Linked DNA regions of Homo sapiens. The protein of the gene in region 2 purifies or fractionates together with the protein of the main gene of each other region. This does not show direct contact. Each region holds a gene or a part of one and is shown on either strand. Other genes may lie near its edges.

Region 1 (3,500 bases), on a different chromosome or scaffold from region 2:
ACCTCCCAGGTTCAAGCAATTCTCCTGCCTCAGCCTCCTGAGTAGCTGGGATTATAGGCGCCCACCACCACCCCAGTCATGCCCAGCTAATTTTTTTTTTTTTTTTTTGTATTTTTAGTACAGACAGGGTTTCACCATGTTGGCCAGGCCTGTCTTGGACTCCTGACATCAGGTGATCTGCCTGCCTCGACCTCCCAAAGTGCTGGTGTTACAGGCGTGAGCCACTGCACCTGGCCCAAATACATTTTGAACTCAAATATTATTAGGCCGGGCGCAGTGGCTCATGCCTGTAATGCCAGCACTATGGGAGGCCAAGGGGAGCGGATCACCTGAGGTTAGGAGTTCGAGACCAGCCTGGCCAACATGGTGAAGCCTCGTCTCTACTAAAAATATAAAAATTAGCTGTGTGTGGTGGTGCGTGCCTGTAGTCTAGCCTGGAGAGGCTGAGGCAGGAGAATCAGTTGAACCTGGGAGGCAGAGGTTGCAGTTAGCTGAGTTCATACCACTGCACTCCAGCCTGGACAACAGAGCAAGACTCTCAAAAAAAAAATTATATATATATATATGTATTTGGATCTAAGGAAGGAGAACAGATTAATCAGGTAAATATTTTCACTTGGTAGGAAAGCAAAGCCCTTTCTCCCATCTCCACCCAAAGGTAAATAATTTTTTTTCTTCTCTGGAAAATAACAAAATATATCAGGCTGAAGTTAATATTATCAGTACTGTTATCTGTAAGTCCTACATCCTACATCTCCATAGATTTATCTTTTTTTTTTTTTGCAAATAAGAAAAAATATTTTAAAAAATAGAAATAAGGTAAGTACCTGCTCCATTCCGTTTGATTTTCTGGGTTTTCACATGAGCCACATAAACGTGATATCACCTGTGATTCTAAAGGTCCAAGTGTTCAGAAATAGATTATGATTACGGCTCACATGTTTAACAAAAATTTGAAAGGCAGATTTTGGAAAGGTAAAGATCAAATAATCTCCTTGTGAGCTTCCAAAATACTATTTCCAGACCATCACTTGAGAAACTGAGTATTATTTTGGTCACAGATCATATAAGATCTTTTGTAGTTTAAAATTAAGTTTTTTCTTTTTTTTTAATCTTTGTGTTACCCTGACATCTTCTGGCCAAAAGAGAGAGCTGCACATCAACAGTTGAACATTCTCAAGCTCATTCTCACAAGAGGCAGGGAGCAATAAATGCTTCCCCTTCAAGAGCAGTCAGGATCACCCAACTCTATAAACTGCTTCACGCTGATATAGCATAGCCCTTCAGCTTCCACTGAGAATTTCACTGAGTAGATGAACTTGCAGCATGCCCTTTAAGAAAATGCACTAACAGGCCGGGCGCGGTGGCTCATGCCTGTAATCCCAGCACTTTGGGAGGCCGAGGCCGGCGGATCACAAGGTCAGGAGATCGAGACCATCCTGGCTAACACGGTGAAACCCCGTCTCTACTAAAAATACAAAAAATTAGCCAGGCGTGGTGGCGGGCGAATGCAGTCCCAGCTACTCGGGAGGCTGAGGCAGGAGAATGGCCTGAACCCGGGAGGCGGAGCTTGCAGTGAGCCGAGATAGCGCCACTGCACTCCAGCCTGGGTGACAGAGCGAGACTCCATCTCAAAAAAAAAAAAAAAAAGAAAAAAGAAAATGCACTAACAGAACAGAAGAAAAATAAAAGTTAAATTCTGTGGAGCCTTTTTTTTTTTTTTTTGGAGAAAAAAATCTCTAATTTGATCCAATTTTTTTTTCTTTTTTTATAGAGGGGGGTGTCACTCTTTCACCTAGGCTGGAGTGTGGTGCATAATCATAGCTCACTGCAGCCTCAAACTCCTGGGCTCAAGTGGATCCTCCCACCTCAGCCTCCCAAGTAGCTAGGACTACAGGCACAGGCTACCACACATGACTAATTTATTTATTTTATTTTATTTTACTTATTTATTTATTTATTTTGAAATAGAGATTTATTTATTTATTTAGAGATCGAGTCTCACTCTGTCACCCAGGTTGGAGTGGCACGATCTCAGCTTACTGCAATCTTGATCTCCCGGGTTCAAGCGATTCTCAGCCTCCTGAGTAGCTGGAATTACAGCCACCTGCCATCACACCCAGCTAATTTTTGTATTTTTAGTAGAGATGGGGTTTCATCATGTTGACCAGGCTGGTCTCAAACTCCTGACCTCAAGTGATCCTCCCGCCTCAGCCTACCAAAGTGCTGAGATGCTAGCATTACAGGCATGAGCCACCGTGCCCGGCCTTAATTTTTTTTTTAGACAGAGTTTCGCTCTTGTCACCCAGGCTGCAGTGCAATGGTATGATTGCAGCTCACTGCAACCTCTGCCTCCCGGATTCAAGCAATTCTCCTGCCTCAGCCTCCCGAGTAGCTGGGATTACAGTTGCCCGCCACCACGTTCAGCTAATTTTTGTATTTTTAGTAGAGACAGGGTTTCACCATGTTGGCCAGGCTGGTCTCGAACTCCTGACCTCAGGGAATCTACCCGCCTCGGCCTCCCAAAGTGCTGGGATTATAGGCGTGAGCCACCACGCCCAGGAATTTCTTTTTTTTTTTAAAACTTAACTTGGTGCTCATTTGTTACAGCACTAAATTTCTCATTTTTGGTAGAGATGGGGGAACTCACTATGTTGCCCAGGCTGGTCTCGAACTCCTGGCCTCAAGCAATCCTCCTACCTTGGCCTCCCAAAGCTCTGTGATTATAGGCATGAGCCACCATGCCCAGCCTGGATTCAAAAAAAATTTTTTTTTCTTTTTCCTTCTTTTTCTTTTTCTCGCTGCCTCCTCCAAGTAGGAAGACTACATATGGATTCAAGTTTTTTTTTCTTTTGAGGCAGTGTTCCGCTCTTGTTGCCCAGGCTGGAGTGCAGCGGCATGACTTCGGCTCACTGTAACCTCTGCCTCCCAGGTTCAAGCGATTCTCCTGCCTCAGCCTCCCAAGTAGCTGGGACTACAGGCGCGTGCCACCACACCCGGCTAATTTTCGTTTGTATTTTTAGTAGAGATGAGGTTTCACCATGTTGGCCAGGCTGGTCTCGAACTCCTGACGTCAGGTGATCCTTCCGCTTCGGCCTCCCAAAGTGCTGGGATTACAGGCATGAGCCACCGAGCCTGGCCTGGATTCAAAAATTTTTAAGATTTATTCTGGACTCAAATTGAAAAACAGGATCTTTTTAAAAGGTAGAAACTAAGTTATTTACTACAACTTTTTTTCTTTCTTTTTTTTTTTTTTTTTTTTGAGATGGGGTCTCACTCTGTCACCCAGGCTGGAGTCTGGAGTGCAGTGGCATGATCTCGGCTCAAGCAATTCTCCCACCTCAGCTTCCAGAGTAGCTGGGACCACAGGGGCACACCACCACACTTGGCTAATTTTTGTGTTTTTAGTAGAGAGGGGTTTCTCCATGTTGCCCAGGCTGGTCTCAAACTCCTGACCTCAAGGGATCTGCCCACCTCAGCCTCCCAAAGTGCTGGGATTA
Region 2 (3,500 bases):
TCTGGAGCCCTTAATATTAAAGGAATCTCTTTAGTGCCACTAACCAGCAGATATATACAAGAATGAAAGAAAACTTTGGCTGCTATGTCAGCTGCTGGGAACCTGGACAGAGAACACTTGTCCCTGAAGGGTGTAGAGATAAGAGCCTTCTAAGAATGAGCATGGATGGCATATAAGGAGCCTCATCCCACCTGGGAGAGAATGAGACTCTTAAAGGGAAACAGTGAGGAACATCTCTGTGCCCAGTTTGAGATAAATGGACTGGAATATGGGAGATCACAGAGTCAGCAAACATACAATACAGCCAACACAAAGTACCTGCATGTGTGGAGCAAGAAAATCTAACCCTCTACTATAAATATGAGTTCTATGTGTCTTCTGCTCTCACATCAATAATTCACCTGTTCACTTTCCTCTCCCTCCCAACTCTCCCCCTCTTTTCTCTATGCCCTCTACATTCTTTAACATGAACACCTTCTTTAACACACTACAATGTGACCATCCTCCAAGCCACAAGCTATGACCTTAGACTTCTGCCCCCATCCATTGGTACTTTCTTAGTTAACCCCATCCATCCACATGTGCTGGATGATCATTCAGATGACTTCAAATTGGATATTTTCAATCCTGGTTTGTTGTTCCATAATTTCAATTGTCAGCTGGTCAAAGGCTACTTTACAATTTAATACACCTGAAACAGACTTAATTCCACTCTTGCTAGCCAAGTTGGTCTCTTAATTTCACATCTTTTTCACTAAAATCATCATTTTTTAGTCCTTGGATCATAAAAATTTGAAACCATTGCTGAAACTTACCTCTACCTGGCCCCCAGGCCATATCAGAATGAAGATTTCATCCTTACCTTAGAGCTTTCAACTGCTCAAAAATTGCAATCACATCTCTTTTCACCATTAGAAATCAGTAGATTTGGCCAGGCAAGGTGGCCTATGCCTGTAATTCCAGCACTTTGGGAGGCCAAGGTGGGGTGGATCACCTGAGGTCAGGAGTTTGAGATCAGCCTGGCCAACATGGCAAAACCCCCATCTCTACAAAAATACAAAAATTAGCTGGGTGTGATGATGCAGGCCTGTAATCCCAGCTACTCAGGAGGCTGAGGCAGGAGAACCACTTGAACCCAGGAGGCAGAGGTTGCAATGAGCTGAGATCATGCCACTGCACTCCAGCCTGGGCAACAGAGTGAGACTCTGTCTCAAAAAAGGAAAAGAAAAAGAAATCAGTAGATTTGAAAGAAATCTTCTAAAACATTTTGAGACAAATGCAAAATAAAACACCTGTATAAGGAAAACACCCTGACTATGAGCCTTAAAGACCCTTTCAGCCCTTCCTGATTCTATTCTATCCCCCACCTACCATGTTTCTGAACTTTGCTTTTCTTTATAGTTTTACCACGTTTGTATCTATAAATAACGTATTGTTTAATTATGCATATTTCTAAAACCTTTAAAGAAAAGGAACCCTAGTTTACCTATTTTTTTTGGTAACTTGCTCTTTTCTTTCAACACAAAGTTCATGAGCTTCATCCATGTCGGTGAGCAAGTGATAATTCACTCATTTTAGTGATGTAGAGTATCCTAATGTGTGAATAGACCTCAGTGTGCTTTTCGGTTCTACTGTTGATGGGTATTTGGGTTGTTACCAATTTTTTGCTATTGCAATCACTGTTGCTATAAATATTGTCAGGAATTTTCCCTATAATGAGAGAACTCTTGGATACCAAACAGAGTAGAATTATTGGATCATAGGATTTGGGGTTTTTAACTAGCTAATGCCATATCATTTTCCAAAACAGGTATGATGGTTAATTTTACGTGTCAATTTGAAGGGTGTTTTGGGATGAGATTAACATTTAAATTGGTGAATTTTGAATAAGCAGTTTGCCTCCATAATGTAGGTGAGCCTAATTCAACAAAAAGACCAGCCTCCCCAAGCAAGAGGGATTCTGCAGCAGATGACCTGGGCTTCACCTGTACCATCGGCTCTCCTGGGTCTGCAGCCTGCAAGCCCACACTGCAAATTTGGGCTTATCAGTCTCCATGATCATATGATATAATTTGGCCGTGTGCCCACCCAAATCTCATCTTGAGTTGTAGTTCCCATAACCCTCACGTGTCGTGGGAGAGACCAGGTGGAGATAACTGAATCATGGGGGTGGTTTCCCCCATCCTGTTCTCATGATAGTGAGTTAGTTCTCATGAGATCTGATGGTTTTATAAGGGGCTTCCCCTGCTCTGGGCACTCACTCTTCTTCTCCCTGCTACCATGTGAAGGACATATTTGCTTCCCCTTCCACCATGATTGTAAGTTTCCTGAGGCCTCCCCACCCATACTGAACTGAGAATCAATTAAACCTCTTTCCTTTATAAATTACCCTGTCTCAGGTATGTCTTTATTAGCAGCATGAAAACTGAGTAATACAGTAAATGAGTACAGCAGAGAGTGGAGGGTTGCTGTAAAGATATCCACAAGTGTGAAAGCAACTTTGGAACTGGGTAACAGGTAGAGGTTGGAACAGTTTTGAGGGCTCAGAAGAAGACAGGAAAATGTGGGAAATTTGGGAACTTCCTAGAAATTTGTTGAATGACATTGACCAAAATGCTGACAGTGATATAAACAATGAAGTCCAGGCTGAGGTGGTCTCAGATGGAGATGAGGAACTTTTTGGGAAATGGAGTAAAGGTCACTCTTGCTATGCAAAGAGTTTGGTGGCATTTTGCCCCTGCCCCAGAGATCTGTGGAACTTTGAACTTGAGAGAGATAATTTAGGGTATCTGGCAGAAGAAACTTCTAAGGGGCAAAGCATTCAAGAGGAAGCAGAGCATAAAAAATTTGGAAAATTTGCAGCCTGATGATGCGACAGAAAAGAAAAACATTTTCTGGGAAGAAATTCCAGCCAGCTGCAGAAATTTGCATAAGTAATGAGGAGCCAAATGTAAATCACCAAGACAATGGGGAAAATGTCTCCAAGGCATGTCAGAGACCTTCATGGCAGCCCCTTCCATCATAAGCCTAGGAGGGAAAAGTGATTTCCTGGGCCAAGCCTAAGACCCCCTGCTCTATGCAGCCTCGGGACTGCATATGGTGCCCTATGTCCCAGCCACGGCTAAAAGGGGCCAACATACAGCTCAGGCTGTTGCTTCAGAGGGTGCAAGCCCCAAGCCTTGACAGCTTACACGTGGTGTTGGGCCTGCGGGTGCACAGAAGTCAAGAACTGTGGTTTGAGAACCTCTGCCTAGACTTCAGAAAATGTACAGAAACACCTGGGTGTCCATTCAGAAGTTGCTGCAAGGGCAGAGCCCTCATGGAAGACCTCTGCTAGGGCACTGCAGCAGGGAAATGTGGGGTTGGAGCCCCCACACAGAATCCCCACTGGGGCACTGTCTAGTAGAGCTGTGAGAAGAGGGCCACCATCCTTCAGACCCCACAATCTGAATCTGATCCACAGACGGCTTGCACCATGCAACTGGAGAAGCCACAGACAC

The links.
Region 1: the proteins of CD226 (region 2) and TMEM192 purify together in Homo sapiens (co-immunoprecipitation; 2 studies listed by BioGRID and IntAct, with this or other methods). This does not show direct contact.

Annotation. Positions count from the first base shown.
Region 1 is NC_000004.12:165,095,861-165,099,360, forward strand, and holds part of TMEM192 (transmembrane protein 192), read right to left. Parts: intron 1-3,500.
Region 2 is NC_000018.10:69,937,874-69,941,373, forward strand, and holds part of CD226 (CD226 antigen isoform a precursor), read right to left. Parts: intron 1-3,500.